Homo sapiens: one gene and its partners. The protein of the gene in region 1 purifies or fractionates together with the protein of each later gene. This does not show direct contact. Each region holds a gene or a part of one and is shown on either strand. Other genes may lie near its edges.

Evidence for each region. Proteins that work in one complex are often made in the same cells at the same time.
Region 2: the proteins of PTPRE (region 1) and XPO4 purify together in Homo sapiens (affinity purification with mass spectrometry; 2 studies listed by BioGRID and IntAct, with this or other methods). This does not show direct contact.
Region 3: the proteins of PTPRE (region 1) and CSE1L purify together in Homo sapiens (affinity purification with mass spectrometry; 2 studies listed by BioGRID and IntAct, with this or other methods). This does not show direct contact.

Annotation. Positions count from the first base shown.
Region 1 is NC_000010.11:128,071,080-128,078,105, forward strand, and holds part of PTPRE (receptor-type tyrosine-protein phosphatase epsilon isoform 1 precursor), read left to right. Parts: intron 1-585; coding exon of another isoform or gene 586-587; exon of another isoform or gene 588-649; intron 650-1,058; coding exon 1,059-1,135; intron 1,136-2,257; coding exon 2,258-2,392; intron 2,393-5,523; coding exon 5,524-5,649; intron 5,650-6,537; coding exon 6,538-6,704; intron 6,705-7,026. UniProt on the Homo sapiens protein: Isoform 1 plays a critical role in signaling transduction pathways and phosphoprotein network topology in red blood cells. May play a role in osteoclast formation and function.
Region 2 is NC_000013.11:20,780,730-20,787,755, reverse strand, and holds part of XPO4 (exportin-4), read left to right. Parts: intron 1-157; coding exon 158-275; intron 276-698; coding exon 699-791; intron 792-3,836; coding exon 3,837-4,034; 3' UTR 4,035-7,026. UniProt on the Homo sapiens protein: Mediates the nuclear export of proteins (cargos), such as EIF5A, SMAD3 and isoform M2 of PKM (PKM2). In the nucleus binds cooperatively to its cargo and to the GTPase Ran in its active GTP-bound form.
Region 3 is NC_000020.11:49,070,303-49,077,328, forward strand, and holds part of CSE1L (exportin-2), read left to right. Parts: intron 1-1,983; coding exon 1,984-2,151; intron 2,152-2,265; coding exon 2,266-2,395; intron 2,396-4,482; coding exon 4,483-4,548; intron 4,549-5,015; coding exon 5,016-5,218; intron 5,219-6,677; coding exon 6,678-6,762; intron 6,763-7,026. UniProt on the Homo sapiens protein: Export receptor for importin-alpha. Mediates importin-alpha re-export from the nucleus to the cytoplasm after import substrates (cargos) have been released into the nucleoplasm.

The DNA of each region.
Region 1 (7,026 bases):
TGTGAAGCACCAGCTGACCCAGACAGTCCTGCATGGGTCTCAGGCAAGCTGCTTCGGATATGAGCTTGCAGATGCGGGAGGGCAGCCGAGGCTGATTTCAGGGGAGGGCTTCACAGAAGCTGGAGATTTGCGGCAGGCACGACTTGGGATTCCTTGTCTCATTCCTTGTCTCCCCAAGCCTGGGCAGAGGCCCGCCTCCCCCTTACACAGAGGGGCCTGAGCCACCCAGCCGAGGCCATGCAGGTGAACTCAGCTGAGACCACCTAGGAAAAGGCTGTGGCCTTGAGGAGGACAAGAAATGGGCCTAGGGTAGAGTCAGGACACTGGTCTGCCACCCAGGTCATGGGAGAGGGAAGGAGGACCTGGCAGGTGTGGGAGGAGTGGAGGCAAAGCTGGCAAGAAGACAGGGCCACATGCAGTGGGCAGGGGAGTGGGAATCGGGAGGCTCACCAAGTGGGAAAAAGAGAAACTTGAGAAACCCGGCCCCAAAGCAGACTCCACAGGGATCCGAGGAACTAGGGAGGGAGGTGGGAGATGCCCCGCTTGGGAGGAGGGTGTGCCTCGTTATAGACTTGTCCTCGACAGAGTCACAGCTCAACAAACACCATCTGGAAACAGCTGGGAGCAGGCCTGCTGCAGCAGGGTCTCCCCGAGCACTGCAGGCGAGTAGAGCTCCCCGGGGTGCTGCCATCTTCAGACTCTGGCCCTTGGTTTTCTGGGGCCCCGGTGTCCTGCTGGCCACTCTAGATTGCTTGCCTGGCCACATTCCATTTACTCCTTCAGCGCAATATTTTTAGTGCTTGTATTTTGGTATGTATTATATCGATTCCTGAAAAATGAAAATGATAATTGGGTGGTTTTCAGAGTTTTCCTTCAAAAAGAAAAATACCCCTGAGCCACTTTAATTATCGTCTCTCATAACGTAAACTTTCCAAAGAGTTGGCTTTACGTAGTGATTTTATTAATAGGATCTATATTTTGCAAGCTTGTAGCAATGGATTAAAGTTAGCAAGGTGGGACCCTTTTTGTAATAACTAAAGGAAGATAATGCTTTGCAGATGACTTCAACCGAGTGATCCTTTCCATGAAAAGGGGTCAAGAATACACAGACTACATCAACGCATCCTTCATAGACGTACGTATGCTGGCCTGGGTTGTGTTTATGCAGATGTGTTTCCTTCACATGTGACCACAGACTTGATTAGCTTGTTTTCACAATGAGAAAGAATTGACATGTTTCCAGAAACTCAGCCATTTTTGTTAGCAGAATTACTTGCTTAAAAAAAAAAGTGGCAAGGCACGATGGCTCACACCTGTAATCCCAACACTTTGGGAAGCTAAGGCGGGCAGATCACTTGGGGTCAGGAGTTTGAAACTAGCCTGGCCAATATGGCAAAACCCGTCTCTACTAAAAATACAAAAATTAGCTGGGCGTGATGGCAGGTGCCTGTAATCCCAGCTACTTGGGAAGCTGAGGCAGGAGAATTGCTTGAATCCGGGAGGCTGAGGTTGCAGTGAGCTGAGATTACACCACTGTACTCCAACCTGGGCAACAGAGTGAGAGCGAGACCCCCTCTCAAAAAAAAAAAAAAAAAAAAAAAAAAGTGGACTTTGGAAATAGAAGGACATAGACTCGCTGCTAAGTAATTGGCTCTTTTTTCATTCTGCTTTTAATATATAGTTATTTTTCTTTTACATATCTGTTACACACCAATTATATATCCACTGCCTCTGTGCTCTTTCTCTTGTGTGATTTCTGCAATGTGTACCCACGTGGACAATACAATTATGTGTTCAGGGCACACAGAGGCTGTCTTCATGCACAGTGGAGTTCGCAGAAGAAGGGCAAAAGGGGGAATGGCAGCCAAGTGTGTGTTCATATTGCCATTTGCAGATGAGAAAATTGTACCAGAATCCGGTGGGCTCCATGCTGATCTAGCTGAAACACACAGAAACATGTTAGAATCTAAGCCACCAGGTGCTGTTCAGGTGGCCACAGGCAACTACCAGTTCATAATACCCATTTGTTGATGACCTCAGGGGCTGACGGTGGCCGTTATGGTTTCAGATAAGCGAGCTTCTTGACCTGCTTGTCAGGTGTGTGCCTGAGTGCTCGTGCCAACTGGGGTCTGGTGCAGACCATGGAGGATGAGAGAGTTTTCCTCATTAGGCCTTAGGCTGTCCTAAACTTAGGGAGCAGGTAATGGAGCCAGGATGGAAGGAAGTCAGACTCTAACCTCTGCGCCTCCATTTGAAGGGCTACCGACAGAAGGACTATTTCATCGCCACCCAGGGGCCACTGGCACACACGGTTGAGGACTTCTGGAGGATGATCTGGGAATGGAAATCCCACACTATCGTGATGCTGACGGAGGTGCAGGAGAGAGAGCAGGTGAGGAGTGCCGCCCAGCCCGGTCCCTCCAGGGCAGCCTGTGCACCTGAGGCACTGTCCCCGTTCATTACAAATGTCCCACCTGCCATCACTGCAAACACATGGGTGAGACCAAGCCAGGACCACTAGGGAAGGAGAGAGATTGGAAATGAAAAAGGTTTCATTTCACCCTTTCCCTTTTTGGGAGTGAGGTTTAACCATAGCTACCCGCTGCCCTTTATCCTTAGCCTACATGTTATTTAACCTGCCCTGAAATTCTGCCATTTGGTATTGGCCAAGATCATAACCTGTTGAAGAAAAAGACATTTATTGACTTTTTTCAAGACATGAAGACAACAGTAAACCCAAGGTTTACCAACAATGTACATCTATCTGGGTTCTCCCCCAAGACATAACTACTGCTGTGTATTTGTGTTTTTATTTCTTTGCTCTAAAAAGGAACAGCTTTATTGTGATATAATTCACCTATAATTCATGCAATTCATCTTTTTAAAGGGTACAATTCAGTGAATTGGAGTATATTCACAGAGTTGTGCAACCACCACCACTATCTAATCTGTGATCATTTTCATCAACCCAAAAGGAAACCTCGTACCATTAACAGTCACTCCCCATTCCTTCCTTCCCCTAACCCCTGGCAACCACTAATCTGCTTCCTGACTATGGGTTTGTCTATTCTGGACATTATTATAAATGGAATCATACAGTATGTGGTCTTCCGTGATTGGGTTCTTTCACTTAGCATCATGCTTTCAAGGTTCATCTATGTTGTAGCATGAATCAGTAAATCATTCTTTTTTACTGGCAAATAGTATTTGCTTGTGTGGATATACTACACTCTGCATATCCATTCATCAGTTGATGGACATTTAGGTTGTTTCCACTTTGGAGCTATTATAAATAGTGCTGCTTTGCTTGGTGCGGTTGCTCACACCTGTAATCCCAGCCCTTTGGGAGTCCAAGGCGGGCAGATCACCTGAGGTCAGGAGTTCGCGGCCAGCCTGGCCAACATGGCAAAACCCCGCTTCTACTAAAAATACAAAAATTAGCTGGGCATGGTGGCGGGAACCTGCAATCCCAGCTACTTGGGAGGCTGAGGCAGGGAGAATCGCTTGAACCTGGGAGGCAGAGGTTGCATTGAGCTGAGATCGCGCCATTGCACTCCAGCCTGGGGGACAGAACAAGACTCTGTCTCAAAAAAAAAAAAAAAGTTTCTTGAACATTCAGGTAGTAGTTTTTGTATGGACATGCTTTTTCACTTCCCTTGGGTATACGCCTAGGAGTGTATATACTAGGAGCGGAATTGCTAGGTCACGTCATAACTCTATGTCATAAACTTACTGTTTAACATTTTTGAGGACCTGCCAGACTGTTTTCCTCAGTAGCTGCCCCATTTTACATTCCTACCAGCAATATATAAGGTTCTAATTTCTCCACATCCTCACCAACATTGTCATTGTCTTTTTGATTAAAGCCATCCTAGTGGATATGTTCTTTGCTTTTTTAAAACATCTTTTAAAATCACATCTGTTTATGCCTACGTAGACTGTTGTTTAGTTTTACTTGTGTTTGAACTTTATAGAAAGAGCATCATTACAGCATGTTGTCTTCTGAGACTTGCTTCTTCCACTCAAAATTGTGCTTTTGATATTCTATGTTGATGCTTATGCTGTGGTTCATTCGTCATCATTATTTCATTATATTCCACTGCACAAACTATATCCTGCATTAGCTCAGGTATTCCTTCTCCTGTCATGGGCACTTGAGTTGGTTTCATTTCGTTGTTTTACAAACAGTGCTACCTGTACATTCTTTTTTTAAAACTTTAAGTTCTGGAGACAAGTGCAGAATGTATAGTTTTGTTACATAGGTATACATGTGCATGGTAGTTTGCTGCACCTGTCAACCCATCATCTAGGTTTTAAGCCCTGTATGCATTAGCTATTTGTCCTAATGCTCTCCCTCCCCTCACCCTCCACCCCCCAACTGGCCCCAGTGTGTGTTGTTCCCCTCCCTGTGTCCTTGTGTTCTCCCTACCTGTATATTCTTGTACATGTCTTATGCTGCACTAGGACTAAGATGTATCAAAGAGCCAAAATGCTTCATTGAAGAGTATGTGAAAGTTTGAATTTGCAAGATAATTCCTAATTGCTTTCCAAAGTGGACATCAACAATGTATAAGAGATATCATTCATCTACATACCTAGTATGGTATTCTCAAGGTGTCCTAATTATTGTTAATTGAAAATTAACAAAATATTGTTCATTGTATAATTATTGTATAAATACTATCTTTTTGTGGCTCTGATTTGCATCATTCTGATTCCAAGGTCAACCCCATCACTTCATATATTTGTGGATGACATATTTCCTCTTGTGTCAAATGCCTGTTCCTGCCTTTCACTGATTTTTCTATTGTTTGTCCTTTCTTATTGATTTATAGGAGCTCTTTACGTAATCTTGATACTAATTCTTTATTGGTTTTATGTATTGCAAACATCTTATTGCAATCTGTGGCGTGTCTTTTCACTCTGTTAATGATGTTTGTTGATGAAGAGAAGTGAATGTTACTGTAATCCAATGTTTCAAATTGTTGCATCGTGATTGGTTAGCTGTTTGGGCTCTTGTCTAGTAATCCTTGTGTACCTCAAAGTGAAAAGATATTTCTTCTTCCAAGAGTTTCACAGTTTTGTTTTTTACCTTAAACCTTACTCCATCTGGGTGTATTTTTATTAAGGTTCAAGGCCATGACACGTGGAAGTGCAGGGTGTACACTGCCCAGTTCTAGGAAGAGCTGGGGGCACTCACATCAACCCTGGTAGGGAATGAGTCAGGGATCCAATTTCATTTTCCCCAGGTAGAAAACCAATTTTTCCAGCCCCACATATTGAAGAATCTCTCCTTTCTGCCATATGTTAAGGTTTCATATATATATGTGTCTGTTTCTAGACTCTGTTCTGTTCCCTGGGTCAACAAGCATTAACAGGCATTTATATTCATATTCATATGTTTTTTTTTTTGGTCAGATGAAATACATTAACTGGTTTGAGAACAATTCTGTGTTATAAACTCAAAATCGCCAGCAGCAAATTATTTATTACAAGACTTAAATTTTTATTTTATCCCCTAAGGATAAATGCTACCAGTATTGGCCAACCGAGGGCTCAGTTACTCATGGAGAAATAACGATTGAGATAAAGAATGATACCCTTTCAGAAGCCATCAGTATACGAGACTTTCTGGTCACTCTCAATCAGGTATTGTTGAAGTAGCTCTTTAAACGCTTGTGAATTTAGTGAACCACGCCCTCCCTCTGGGTTCTGCTTGTCATTGAACCAGAATGTGGCCCTGCACCTGTCCTGCTCCTTCACCTAGTCCCATTGGCTATGAATGGCCAATGGGTTTCAGAGACAGTGGCAGGCCTCCTGTACAATTCCCATCTCCCTAGCTGCCTACCTCCCATTTATCTCTCAGGAGAATTACATTAGCCATTAGCTGTAAGAGGAAGAACAAAGGGGACTAATGAAGCCACAGGGGCCTCTCTGGGGCCCTCCTCCAGGTGCCTTCTCAGAGCCCCCCAACTGTCCCCATTTCCACTGGGTCCTTGGTTCTGCTCATCCTCTCTCCTTGGCAAAGAATGAGAACTCGGGGTCAGCTGTAGGTAGGATGACTCACTTGTACACAGGTCTTGATGCTGAGCTCCAAACAGTCAGTATCACGTAATGCACCTGCCACTGTCTCCTCCATGCCAGCCACAGAGCCACCCTGGCCACCAGACTCAGATGCTGCTCATTTGAGCTCTGAAGGGAAATGCAGGGCCCTGGTTTCTTGAGAAAGTGATTCCCTTCTCTCCAGCAGAGCTGCCAAGGATCCCGTAGGGGTTGGGCAGTCCTCACAGGGATCCAGGGGATGTCCTCTGGACGGCTCGCTCCCCCTTGCAGAAGGAAGCACAGCCAGCCACCTGCCTTCTTCTTTAGGACAAGCAGGTTTCAGCCTTCTCCTTCAGGCTGCCTCGGTGGGGATGTTGGCAGCACAGAAGGCTCAGGGAGGGCTCCCAGCCTTGGCCAATCCCTGAGAGGGCAGATGGGGCTGGGGCCTGTTCCCCGGCAGGCAGGCGACGCTGAGACCCCCTCTCCTCCCTGCAGCCCCAGGCCCGCCAGGAGGAGCAGGTCCGAGTAGTGCGCCAGTTTCACTTCCACGGCTGGCCTGAGATCGGGATTCCCGCCGAGGGCAAAGGCATGATTGACCTCATCGCAGCCGTGCAGAAGCAGCAGCAGCAGACAGGCAACCACCCCATCACCGTGCACTGCAGGTGAGCCCCCAGCCCGAAGCCCTCCAGGTGGGGTGGACACAGGCTGCACCCCCCCAGTACCCGCAGCTGTGGGCAGCAGAGCCTGGTCGCTGCCCCTGGCCATGGTATTCCCTAGAGTCTCCTCTCTACCTCTCCTTACACACATGCACACACGACTTCACTTAAGTACATACATGTCATCGTATCATACATAAGATGCATGTGTGTCATCTTAACATAAATGCAGAATGCACTTCAGAGGGTGGAGTTGGGAAACCACTCAAACACACATTTCCATGTGCTTTTGAAGTCATCAAAAAATTGCCAGGCAGGGCTCGGAGGA
Region 2 (7,026 bases), on another chromosome or scaffold:
TCCTTATATAACTCAGTGAAGATATTGCCCATGAGTCTACTTGTGTATCTGTATTCATTTCTAGAAACACTCATCCATTTAATACTAGCTATAATTTTTTTATCTTTTATAAATCGAATATATCCAATCTAGTTTGTTCTTTGACCTTCATGATCAGAATGAGTTCGGAGGTTTGCCAGCTTTGCCTGGAGGCCTTGACACCGTTAGCTGAACAGTGTGCAAAAGCACAAGAAACAGACTCACCACTTTTTCTAGCAACACGGCACTTTCTTAAGGTAAGATGTCTGTGCGGTAGGTCAGAAAATCAGCTACTTTCAAAAGTGTGGTCGGTGCACATAATTCTGCATTCAAATGAGGAAATGCTTCCATTCTTTCGGGGGCAAGGAAACCATGACTTCCTGTTCACTGTTTTTTTCTGGAGATCAGCTCTTCATGGACACATTCTCATCCTCTATTTTTTGTGTTCTTGGAAATTGATGTGGTACACATTGAGGGAATTTGATATTGTTGATTATTCAGATACCACAGCAAGTAGCAATATCTGTAAGGTATTTTTTTTAAAACATTAAGGAAAATTTCAGATTGATTTAATAAATAGAATAACAACCAACCCTCTCTTCTTCTTTTTTGGACTGGGGAGGGACTGGAGGATATATGATCATCCTATGTTTTTATTTAGAAGTCTTATGTAATTTCAGCTGGTTTTTGATATGCTGGTTTTGCAAAAGCACAACACAGAGATGACCACTGCGGCTGGCGAAGCTTTCTACACGTTGGTGTGTTTGCACCAGGTACTGGACATGCCTCTTTTCAGGGGACTCTTCTCATTCTATTTTGCAAAGAGATTGTTGAGATAGATGGTGGGTCATTAATCCCCCCTTATAGGATCTGTGACTCAGTGCTTCAGTTCTGTTTCAGTGAGGAAGTATTTCTTAGCTTCTTTATTAGCTTTCACATGTCAGTTTGTGTTTATCTGACAGCTGTTTGTCAGTTCAAAGCATTTATTTTTTGTCCTCCACCATTATGAACCATCCTTTGCAATGGTCACTGCCCCAAAGCCTGTCCTTAAACAACTGTGCTAGGAATGAGGAATACATAATGGGTGTGTGAAGAACTCATGGTTTTTTGTAAGGGAGACAGGATGGCAGACAAGGAAGAGTCTGCCTTCAGACAGTATGGAAGACAGTATTTTATTGCATATTATAGAAAACAGTATATTATTTCATTTTGTTGATCTTTTAAAGATTCTGAAGCATCACTGATAATGGGGTTAATAGAAGAGTTAGGCTAGCTTACCTGTCTCCCCACTTCTGATCGAATAGGTGCCTGTGAAATTTATGAAAAGGACCGTATTGAACAGTTTGCTGCCTCTGTTTCCCCTTTTCCTCTCCCATGCATATATATACACACATATATATGTAAGGTACATATATATATATATATATATACACACACACGTATATATATATATACCTCCCAGCATGGCCAAGAAGCTTTGGCGTTTTATTTCCATCTTTAAAAAAGGGTTTAGAGGAGGTCTTCCATACTATTTAAAGACCTCCTTTCTCTAGACTTCCCGTAACATCTGTGCCCTAAGCTGAAGGTGCCCTGGGGCTTCATTTCTTGCTCTCTGCCCTAGGCTGCCACTTCCTGCAGGTGGTACCTGCTCTCAAATCTGTGCCCTTTCTCTGTCATTTGTCTTACTTGTTGCTTACTAGCAAGGTAGTCGTCTTGTCTGATCCTTCCTTCCTTCCTTCCTTCCTTCCTTCCTTCCTTCCTCTCTTTTTCTTTTCTTTTTTCTATCTTTTTCTTTCATTTTTCTTTTCTTTCCTTTCTTCCTTCCTTCCTCCCTCCTCTTTCTTTCTTTCTCCCTCCCTCCCTCCCTCCTTTCCTCCCCCGTTCCCTTCCACCCTCTTGTCTCTTCCTCCCTTCCTTTCTTCCTTCCTTCCTTCTCTTCCTTTATTTCTCTCTCTCCCTCTCTTTTAACATATTTACACACTGCAGGAAAGAGCAGGTTTCAGGAATGGCCAGTATGATACTTGCTGCCTGGCCCCAGAGGCTCTACTATCTCGCTTTTTTTTTTTTTCTGAGACAGGGTCTCACTTTATTATTACCCAGGCTGGAGTGCAGTGGTGCAATTACTGCTAACTCCTGCCTCGGCCTCCTGGCCTCAAGCAATCCTCCCGCCTCAGCTCCCCAAGTAGCTGGGACTACAGGTGTGCACCACCACACCTGGCTTATTTTTTGTAGAGACGGAGTTTCACCATGTTGCCCAGGCTTGTATCGAACTCCTGAACTTAAGCAATCCACTCGCCTCGGCCTCCCAAAGTGCCTAGGATTACAGGTGTGAGCCACCATGCCTTGCCACCTCTACCATTTCTCATGAGTAGGGAAATGATAGGAGATTATACTTGGTCCCCTGTGAACAGGACTGTCCCTTTGATAAGGCAATTAGGGGAGCCACTCTGGCTCCATGGTTGGGGATTGGGATGCTGCACCTTATCCTTCTTTTCCAAATGTAATTAACATTTGGTTTCACCATTTTGGTCTATCATGATATCCCAAGAAGCCAATGAAAAATTACAGCATGCCAGGTGCAGTGGCTCATGCTTGTAATTTTTGCACTTTGGGAGACCAAGGTGGGTGGATTGATTGAGGCTGGGAGCTTGAGACCAGCCTGCTCAACATTGCAGAACCCTGTCCCTACTAAAAATTCAAAAATTAGCCAGGGATGGTGGTGCATGCCTGTAGTCCCAGGCTCTTAGGAGGCTGAGGTAGGAGGATCACTTGAACCCAGGAAACAGAGGTTGCAGTGAGACAGGATCTCACTCTGTTGCCCAGGCTGGAGTGCAGTGGAGCAACCATGGCTCACTGCAGCCTCAACCTCTTGGGCTCAAGCGATCTCCCATCTCAGCCTCCCAAGTAGCTGGGACTACAGCTGTGCACCACCACAACTGCCTAATTTTTAAATTTTTTGTAGAGGTGGGATCTCACTGTGTTGCTCAGGCTGGTCTCAAATTCCCGGGCTCAAACAGTCATCCCTCCTCAGCCTCCCAAAGTGCTGGCATTAAAGGCCTGAGCCACTATGCTTGGCCAGGCCAGCTTTTTTTGAGAGCTTACCTCTGTCCTGGTTGAATTTCCCTTAAGCCCACACCTTCTTCCACTTTCCTTTATAAGGCTTTATAATAGAGTATTAAAAACAGAAAATTTCCCATATTCCTATATTTACTAAAGTCCTCTTCCTGCCCTTTCTCTAAGAGCTGCTGGGCACAGTGCTGGTTTGGAGCTTTCAGAGTGCCCTGCTCCACTTGGAGAAGGCACTGGAATATATTTCTCCGCCCCGTCCTCCCAAAAGACTCCTGCCTGTCCTGTCTTTGTGCACATTGCTGTCCTCAGAACTGGGTGGACCAGATATCTCTATTAACCTCTGGGGAACTATTGCAGACTTAGATTATGTGTCAAACGCAACATAAATAGGAATAATGTGCTTTGAAGAGGCAGCACAACAAAGTTGATTATCACATGGGTCTTGGGGCTAGATTGGTGGACTCTTGCTTGATCTGGGCCATATCACTTCACCTCACTGAGTGTCGAAACCTTCACCTCTGGAATGGGAATAGAAACAGTACCTGTCTCGAAGCATTGTTGTAAATGATAGATGAATTAATCCATGTAAAAGGTTTTCAAACAGTAGTACTTAAATGCTGAATTATTCTAAATGTTAACTCTTAAAAATGTGTCCCTGCCTTTTAGAACCCCACAGTCCAGTAACTGATAAGATCTACTTGTATGATATTCTAAGGAGGATACTTGTGTATACTTTATCTCTTCAATAGGCTGAATATTCTGAACTGGTCGAAACATTACTATCAAGTCAGCAAGACCCAGTTATTTACCAGAGATTAGCAGATGCCTTCAACAAGCTCACTGCAAGCAGCACTCCTCCTACGCTGGATCGGAAGCAGAAGATGGCCTTCTTAAAGAGTTTAGAAGAATTTATGGCAAATGTTGGTGGTCTCCTTTGTGTAAAATAAACAACAGAACTTTATGCTTAATTTAGATCCTTTCTGCAAAGTGCACTGAATTGCTGAAAGTTGACTTGAGTCTTGTCCTATTCCTCAGTTCATTTGGCCATTTTGGATTTTGGAGAGCCTGAAACTTTGATATGTATGTAATACAGTGAAACAGGAGAGGTCAACTTGGCATCAGCTTCTGCTGTTAAGTGTTAGCCACAATCTGTCATATATATGTCTTTTAGATTCTGAATGGTGATTTAAAATTTTCAAAATGAAATTCCATATATGTGCAAACAGATATGGGCACCACGAAATACATATGCAGTGCCTTTTTTCCTTTTAACATAGGTGGCTAGCCAAAGTTTAGAATTTTTGTCATTAAATATGAAATGGATATATGCTAGGCAGTGTTTCTCAAAATCTCCATAGATCGCCTGCATCACTTGAGGAGCTGGTGAAAAGGCAGATTCTTAGGCCCAACTGTAGACCTTCAGAGTCAGAATGTCTGGTTGTTGGGCCCAGGAGTCTTCATGTTAATAAGCTTCTCCCTTTCGTCACCCCAAAAGTTTTGAATCAATGAAAGAGACATTGAAAACTCTTAAGAGGTTTTGTGCTTTCTAGCTTTTCCTCCCTTTGATGATTGGGTTTTATAATTCAGCAGGAAGGGGAAACATCACCAGGGGTTTGTTGGCTTTTTCTTAGCTTGCTTTCTTGCTTGCTTGCTTTCTTGCTTTTCTTGCTTTCTGTCTCTCTCTTTCTTTTCTCTCTCTCTCTCACATCAACCCAGTGCTGCAGGTTTTGTGTAATACAAGTCACTAATCATACTCTGATGCCTGAACTTGAGGAGGAAAATACATGTATATTTTTGTTCCGTAAAAATAACCTTAGGAACTGTAGCCATTTCATTGCCTTAATTTTAAGAGGAAAATACAAAAACAGCTGATTTGTTTTAGTAAGAAACCACGTCTTGATGCTTCAGAGTTGGTTTAGGGTGTTAGCTGCTATGAACCTGTTGCCCCTTTCGATCGTGTATTTATGTAGGTTTATCAGTGAAATGAAAGGCTTGTTTCCGTCTAGTCTAACTTTTTGAGTGTGTTTCTATCCAGCCACATAGCCCATATCTACTCTAAATGGCTTGCTTAAGCAATAATTATTTTAAAGGATGTGAATCACTGATTCACACAGACTATTGCACGTTGGGGCATTAGGGGCAATAATTCTTATCCAGACATGGGAGCCAGTGAATTTAATTTCAGAGATTAAAAATTCACTTTAGATCCTCTAGTTTGATCTCTTAATCAGGATTTTTATACAGCTGCCAGGCTCCCCTAATTCAGTGTGCCAGCTTACAATGTGGAAATGAAAGCTAATTTATACACAGCAGGCATATGAAACTCCACTCATTGCAGTACTTTCACAGCACAGTGACAGGTAGAGGACTCTGGCACAGGTGCACTCATGAAACTCTGCTTCCACCATGTTCCTGACACCTATCTATTAAACCATTCTGCAAATACGGTTTTTCTACCTGATTGCATATAGCATATGTGTCATTACATGTGATGCTGTGCAAAACTTTGTATAATTCTGTGTTATTAACAGTTAACAAAACTGGAGCATCTGAATTACATCCAACCTGTGCATGTGATGTTAGGTAGATGTGAATGCAGGGCCTTGGGCCATAACTTACATTTCTCTCAATTTGATTAGCTTTGAGTCACAATTAAGGGGAAGCAAAAACATCTTGAAAAGACTGCTAGGAAGGAAATTAATATCAGTCATCCAGAAGTACACGTTTCTGTATTTTAAAAAATACTTTGATGCATTTATTTTTAGGTGTTTTTTTTTTCCCCTTAAAAAACTTGAAGTGATATGCAGCAGTAATCTATTTGTTTTGCATTGTTCTTGGTGTTTTGTGTTTCCCAGATCCCTCAAGCTTTCTCAGCTGTTGTGAATTATGTGTATCTGTGTGTGTGCTAAGTACAGTCTCTTTACCAAAGGGCACTGAAACACACAATTGACTGGACAGGTCCACGCGCCATGACAAAACTATAATCAAGTTATTAAAACTAAAGAGGAGTGGGAAAGGAATGCCTTGGTAAGTAAAAAGGCATCTATATTTAATAACTTTTATCCAGATGGCAACATATTTGCAAAATTTGCCCAGATCCTATTACAATACTAAAAATAGAAAATTTCACCTCCATATTCCTGAGGTGTAATTTCATTAGACTAGTTTTAGTTTAAAAAGACCTTCTTCAGATTGGACCAAATAATACTTATAAGATCAGCAGAATGTTGAATATTAGCTCACTGGGGTGGGGAGAAGCCACTACCATTTTTTAGGTGATGGGGATGCCACTGAGTTGCAACGGCTAGACCTTTTCAGGGTGGTTGTGTCCATGTTTGCCTGATTGGATGCTTATTCACTTTGTGTTTTCTTTTGTTTTATTTTGTCCAATTTTGTCTTTAGCTGTGTTTATTAACTTCTCCGGTCTTGTTTTGTTTTAATGCTCTTGGCCCAGTGGGTGTCAAGAACACTGGCTTAATTCAAGTCAGTTGATTTTTTTTCTATTAAAACTGTTGTTAAAATATTTTTTAAAACAAAAACATTATTTGTGCCCTCTTTTATATATGTCAAAGGGACACTGTCAAGTATTTCATTTTTAGATTTTTGTTTTATAAAATTTCTGTTGTTCATATAGTATCCTTTAACCTCTAGTTTTCCATACATCCTTTGTTTGTTTCTCATTTTATTTTCCTTGACCCATTTATTTCCCAAGGCACAATCACTAAAGACTTTGTACTTTCACAGTCTGTTAATGTGGTAGCACCTGTAACTGTGTTCTTGTTCTGTTAAAAGGATTGATTTGCTTTTATAGTCCTTGTGCTGGATGAGTGGCTGCCTCAGTAGCAAAACTACCTGACAGTATTTGACAGTGTCCTTTCCAGCACCATTATTTGGGTCTTTCAGGGTGGCCATCTCTGTTAGAAGACAGTAGCATGTTAA
Region 3 (7,026 bases), on another chromosome or scaffold:
TATTTAAAATGTTGCCTGAGTGGTCTTTTTCTTTCATTAAGAGTTATTTGGCTACAGTCTGGAAACCTATTTACTCTTGCATTGTTAAAAGATAAAATTTCAATACTGTAATAATATTTGATTCTATTTGATGTTACATGTTTGGTGTGTGTAGTATACAGAATTACTCTTATCATGGGCTTGGCTTAAGCCATAGTGTACATATAAGGCTGTTTCATTACATTATTGAAAGTAGGTCTTTAAAGTAGTGACATTATGGATATTTCATGAAATAAAATTATTTTTCATTGAAGATACTAAGAAAACTTAAAACTCTATAATGGTAGCCCCTTTTTAAAAATCATCTGGCTAGGCATGGTGGTTCACACCTGTAATCCCAGCACTTTGGGCGGCCAAGGTGGGGAGGATCCCTTGAGCCCAGGAGTTCAAGACCAGCCTTGGCAATGTAAGGAGACCCCCATCACTACAAAAAATAAAAATAAAATTAGCCAGATGTGTTGGCTCATGCTAATGGTCACAGCTACTCAGAAGGCTTAGTTGTGAGGATCCCTTGACCTTGAGCCCAGGAGGGCAAGGCTGCAATGAGCTGTGACCATGCCACTGCACTCCAGCCTGGGAGACAGAGGGAGACCTCGTCTCAGAAAAAGAAAAAATTATCCACAGCTCGAGAAAGAGAGAAAATGGTAAAAGATTGTAATTTGTAAATATTTCTGATATGGGTTTTATATTGTGTACTTTTAAACATATAACACTTATTCTGTGCTACTCATTTGTTAATATATTTATGACCTTCTTTCCGAAGAGACAAAAGACAAAATATTAAAAATATTTCAATACCAAATAAACTAAAAATTAGAATTGGTGATTCAAATCAGGTTTTAAGAGTGGGGTACAGAAAGAAATTGTTACTATCGTTGTACAACAGATTTTGTCTCAGAGTTTGACTATATTAATAGGAACTTTAAAAGATGTAGCTCTCATAAAATAATTATTTCAGTCCAATGGGAGGGAAAAACACTCCTTCAGAAAACAAAACTTTTCTTCACACAAAAGTCACAAGGAAATTTTTTGGATAGAATTCTTACAAGGACCTTTTTGCCCAGTTAACCATGTGCTACCTTGTGCTACTATTTATGCCTTAAGTAATCAGTGTGAGGGAGTTTTGGTTTTGGCTTTGGTTTTTGTTCTTACTCTGATGTCTTCCCTTGTCTCACTCTGTCACCAAGGCTGGAGTGCAGTGGCATGATCATGACTTACTGCAGCTTCGACCTCCCTGGGCTCAAGTGATCCTCCCACCTCAGCCTCCCAAGTAGCAGGGACTATGGGTATGCACCACCATGCCCAGCTGATTTTTTTTATTTTGGGGGCTTGCTGTGTTGCCCAGGCTAGACTCAAAACTCCTGGGCTTGGCCCGTCGCAGTGGCCCACGCCTATAATCCCAGCACTTTGGGAGGCCGAGGCCATCCTGGCTAACACGGTGAAACCCCGTCTCTACTAAAAAAAAAAAATACAAAAATTAGCCGGGCGTGATGGCGGGTGCCTGTAGTCCCAGCTACTTGGGAGGCTGAGGCAGGAGAATGACGTGAACCCAGGAGGCGGAGCTTGCAGTGAGCTGAGATCGCGCCACTGCACTCCAGCCTGGGCAACAGAGGGAGACTGCGTCTCAAAAAAAAAAAAAAAAAACCACTCCTGGCCTCAGGCCATCCTCCAGCCTCAGCCTCCCAGAGGGTTGGGATTACCGGCGTGAGCCACTACACTCAGCCAGAATATACTGTTTGAATCTAATACGGAAATATTTTGTAATTCAGCAACTTATTTGAAAGACTTGGTGAAAAGATTGGTGGTGGCATAGCTGTAGTTTACAATAACTGATTTGATTTGGATTTAATTGATAAAGAGTCTAGTTCAGGAATTTCAGTTACTCCTCTTACTTATGTTAGCATTAGAGTTGTATGTTGGAGTTTTTGTTTTCTTTTATGTGAGGATGAAGAGGAAGCCGGCTTATTGGAGCTCTTAAAATCCCAGATTTGTGATAATGCCGCACTCTATGCACAAAAGTACGATGAAGAATTCCAGCGATACCTGCCTCGTTTTGTTACAGCCATCTGGAATTTACTAGTTACAACGGGTCAAGAGGTTAAATATGATTTGGTAAGATGATGGTGGAGACAAATAATTAAAAGACATTCTCTCCCTATCTCCTCCAAGAAATAAGCTGTTGAGTTTTGCTTTTAAAAATATTCTTGTTTTTGTGTTTTGTTCCAGTTGGTAAGTAATGCAATTCAATTTCTGGCTTCAGTTTGTGAGAGACCTCATTATAAGAATCTATTTGAGGACCAGAACACGCTGACAAGTATCTGTGAAAAGGTTATTGTGCCTAACATGGAATTTAGAGGTAATTATGGCAAAAGTATATTAGTATAAATCTACTAAGTCTGTGTTTGTTTTTTGTAACATATTCAGTCTAATTCATTTATTACTGGATAAAACTTGTATGTCATTTATTTCTTATTTTCTAAACCAAGACAGAAAATGTAGTATCTGTAATGAGTTTTGTTGTGCCCTGTGAGGGTTTTCTCATGGAAATATTAAATAAGACTTCAAAAATTCCTTTACACTAAGAAGATAAACTATCTGGAATTTCTATTTAGAGAAAGAATTTGATTTTGTTTCATTTATTATTTCAATGAATTTTTAGCTGGCTTTATTTATTTATATATTTATTTGAGACAGGGGTCTCGCTCTGTCACCCAGGCTGGAGTGCAGTGATGCAATCTTGGCTCACTGCAACCTTAGCCTCCCAGGCTCAAGTGATCCTCCTACCTCAGTCTTCTGAGTAGCTGGGACCACAGGCACACATCACCATGCCTGGCTAATTTCTTGTATTTTTGGTAGAGACAGGGTTTCACCATGTTGTTCAGGGTAGTCTCAAACTCTTGAGCTCAAGCAGTCCACCCGCTTTAGCCTCCCAAAGTGCTGGGATTGCATTTCTGAGCCACCTCGCCCAGAAATAGCTGTTTTTAAACAATCGACTTGAGAATAGAAATGATAACTTTATAAATACAAGGTTGAAGCCCACTTAGTTTGTGCTTAAGGTTAAACTATAGTGCTAAGAGCCTATATTTATAAAATGTATGTCCTTGTTCTAACAGTTGTGAAGAACAAGTAATGAAGGTGGGAGGGATTGTGTTTTTTGTTTTGGGGACAGGGTCTCACTGTGTCACCCAGGCTGGAGTGCAGTAGCACAGTTATGGCTTACTGCAACCTCAACTTCCCAGGCTCAAGTCATTGTCCCACCCTGGCCTCCTGAGTAGCTGGGACTACAGACGTGCACCACCATGCTCAGCTAGTTTTTTATTTTTTATAAAGATGGGGGTCTTCCTATGTTGCACAGGCTGGTCTCAAACTCCTAGCTTCAAACAATCCTTCTGCCTCAGCCTCTCAAAGTGCTGGGATTACAGGCATGAGCCACCATGCCAGGCCAAGATTTTGTTTTATATCAAAATAGTTATTAGATCAGTGGTTTTCAAATTACATCTGGAACAAAATAAGGAAATTAAGGACAATATAGCGTGAGATTTTATTTCCTGTTGTGTTTTCATAAAAATATGTTTAAAGGATAAATCTTCTGGCTGGGTGTGGTGGCCCATACCTTTAATCCCAACACTTTGGGAGGCTGAGGTGGGAGGAACACTTGAGCCCAGGAGTTAAAGACCAGCCTGGCCAAAATGGCAAAACCTTATCTCTACAATAAATAAATTAGTTGGGTATGGTGGCATGGGCCTGTGGTCCCAGGTACTCAAGCAGCTTAGGTGGGAGTTTTGCTTGAGCTCAGGAGGTGGAGGCTGCAGTGAGACATGATCATACAACTGCAGTGTGTGTGTGTGTGTGTGTGTGTGTGTGTGTGTGTGTGTGTAGACTTTTTTTTTTTTTTAATTTATATGATAAAAATAGAGATGAGATCTCGCTGTGTTGACCAGGCTGGTCTCAAACTCCTGGGCTCAAGCGATCCTCCCATTTCAGCCTCCCAAAGTGCTAGGTTACACGCGTGAGCCACCATGCCGGCCATTTCTGACATTGTCCACTCTACTTATTTGTTGTTGAAATGACTTTAATGAAATAATAGTGATTAAAATTAGGTTGTTGGTATTTTAATGTTCTTATTTGGTGAAATTAAAAGTTAGCATTCTGATACTGATCCCTAACATTTTTGACAGTTGCAGGTATAATCCAATTCTGGGGAAACTGTCACATTAGAACAAGTGAGCCTATCTCATAGTTGTGTGAATTACCTAATACCTCACCTTTCAGGGTAGCATTTGCTGCTCTAGATAATGATTAAGAGTATATGAAGTAGTCATCTGATGGGAACGAATTCTTTGCTGTAGAACAAGGCAGTTTTACATACTCTTCTGCATTCTCAGCTGTAAAGTACAGTGACGTCTTTTGGAGTGTTATCTGAAATATCATCTCTCCTTGTAGCTGCTGATGAAGAAGCATTTGAAGATAATTCTGAGGAGTACATAAGGAGAGATTTGGAAGGATCTGGTGTGTATCTTGGTTTTTTAGTTACTAGTCTCTTAGCAAGCCAGTTTTAAGGTGGTTCTCTTTCTAGTAAATGGGAGAAGTGGGATTGAGAATAAGAGTGTTTTTTCAGCGGGCTTTCATTGAGAACTGTTGTCTTTCTTCAACTTGTCTTAAAAAGCTCTTATATGACCTGAATGAAAATATCAAAAGTTGAATCATTTGTCTGTTCTTACATAGTATTTATCAAAATTCTGTGATTCTGTGACCTCTTTAGTTTCATTTTGATTTTGTATTTCTTGGGGGCGGGAATGTTTTTTTCATTGTTTGTGTTGCTGATAGCTATTGGGTGGCCCTTTGTTTTTCGTTCTTTTTTTTCCGTTTTACAATCGTAGCCAAATTATTCCAGGCAATTTGTTTTCTTATAAATTGGATCAGCTTGTTGGTGGTTGTTTTTTTTCCCCATAATATATTTTCTTTTCATTTCATAGATATTGATACTAGACGCAGGGCTGCTTGTGATCTGGTACGAGGATTATGCAAGTTTTTTGAGGGACCTGTGACAGGAATCTTCTCTGGTTATGTTAATTCCATGCTGCAGGAATACGCAAAAAATCCATCTGTCAACTGGAAACACAAAGATGCAGCCATCTACCTAGTGACATCTTTGGCATCAAAAGCCCAAACACAGAAGGTAAATATTTTTAATGTGGTTTTGTTTCTAAAACAGACATCAGTGACACCCACACAAGTCAAAAAGAAATAACGTCTCTGATAATAGAGCTTACTCTGCCAGATAACCTATTCTGATTAAGATTTATATAATCTCTGAAGATGGCTTTATGTTGATGTATTGAGCACTTAAGTTTCTTATAGACCAGAAAATTGATAGATGGCCACACTTGTTACCTTAGCTGAGACCCGCTGTATCAAATATGCTTAACTTAAACTTAGCTGTTCTTTAATTGAGGAAAGTTTCTTTATTGTCTATTAGTATAGTCTTATTTTACATTTTTATATTTTTGAGATGGAGTCTCACTTTGTCACCAGGCTGGAGTGCAATGGCGTGATCTCAGCTCACTGCAACCTCCACCTCCCGAGTTCGAGCGACTCTCCTGCCTCAGCGTCCCAAGTAACTGGGATTACAAGTGTGCACTACCACACCTGGCTAATTTTTGTATTTTTAGTAGAGACAAGGTTTCACCATATTGGTCAGGATGGTCTCAAATTCCTGACCTCGTGTGATCCTCACACCTCAGCCTCCCAGAGTGCTGGGATACAGGTGTGAGTCACCGTGCCTAGACAGTATAGTCTTATTTTATATTTTATACATAAGCAGGTTGTGTTTTGTTGTTGTTGTTTTGTTTTGTTTTGTTTTGAGACGGAGTTTCGCTCTTGTTGCCCAGGCTGGAGTGCAATGGCACGATCTTGGCTCACCGCAACCTCCGTTTGCCGGGTTCAAGTGATTCTCCTGCCTCAGCCTCCCGAGTAGCTGGGATTACAGGCATGCGCCACCACCCTGGCTAATTTTGTATTTGTAGTAGAGATGGGGTTTCTCCATGTTGGTCAGGCTGTTCTTGAACTCCTGACCTCAGGTGATCCACCTGCCTTGGCCTCCCAAAGTGCTGGGATTACAAGCATGAGCCACCATGCCTAGCCTAAGCAGTTCATGTTTTGAAGTGTCCCTCTCTCTCTTTTTTTTTTTTTTTTTTTTTTTTTTTGAGACGTTGTCTTGCTCTGTCATCCAGGCTGGAATGCAATGGCAACATCTCAGATTACTGCAACCTCTGCCTCCCGGGTTCAAGCAATTCTCATGCCTCAGCCTCCCGAGTAGCTAGAATTACAGGTGCATGCAACTACACCTGGCTAATTTTTTGTGTTTTTAGTAGAGACGGGGTTTTGCCATGTTGGCCAGGCTAGTCTTGAACTCCTGACTTCAAGTGATCTACCCGCCTCGGCCTCCCAAAGTGCTGGGATTACAGCCGTGAGCTCCTGTACACAGCCAGTACAGTCTCATTTTATACATAAGCAATTTGTATTTTGAAGTGTTCATCTCCATTTTAACATGGTTTTCTAAAATTGCCTGAATTTCTAATGTGATAGATATATACAGGTATTTTGTTATTTTACTATGTTATGAATTTGCTTTTCAGCATGGAATTACACAAGCAAATGAACTTGTAAACCTAACTGAGTTCTTTGTGAATCACATCCTCCCTGATTTAAAATCAGCTAATGGTGAGTTGTGAAATTCTTGCTTTTTTTACAGCTTGCCACACTATACCTGAATTCAAAAAACAGCTTCCTATCCTTGTTCCCTTTTGTTCTTTTTTTTTTTTTTTTTTTCTTTTGAGATGGTGTCTTACTCTGTTACCCAGGCTGGAGTGCAGTGGCACAGTCTCTGCTCACTGCAACTCCTGCCTCCTGGGTTCAAGCGATTCTCCTGCCTCAGCTTCCCAAGCAGCTGGGACTACAGGCACGTACCACCATGCCCGGCTAATT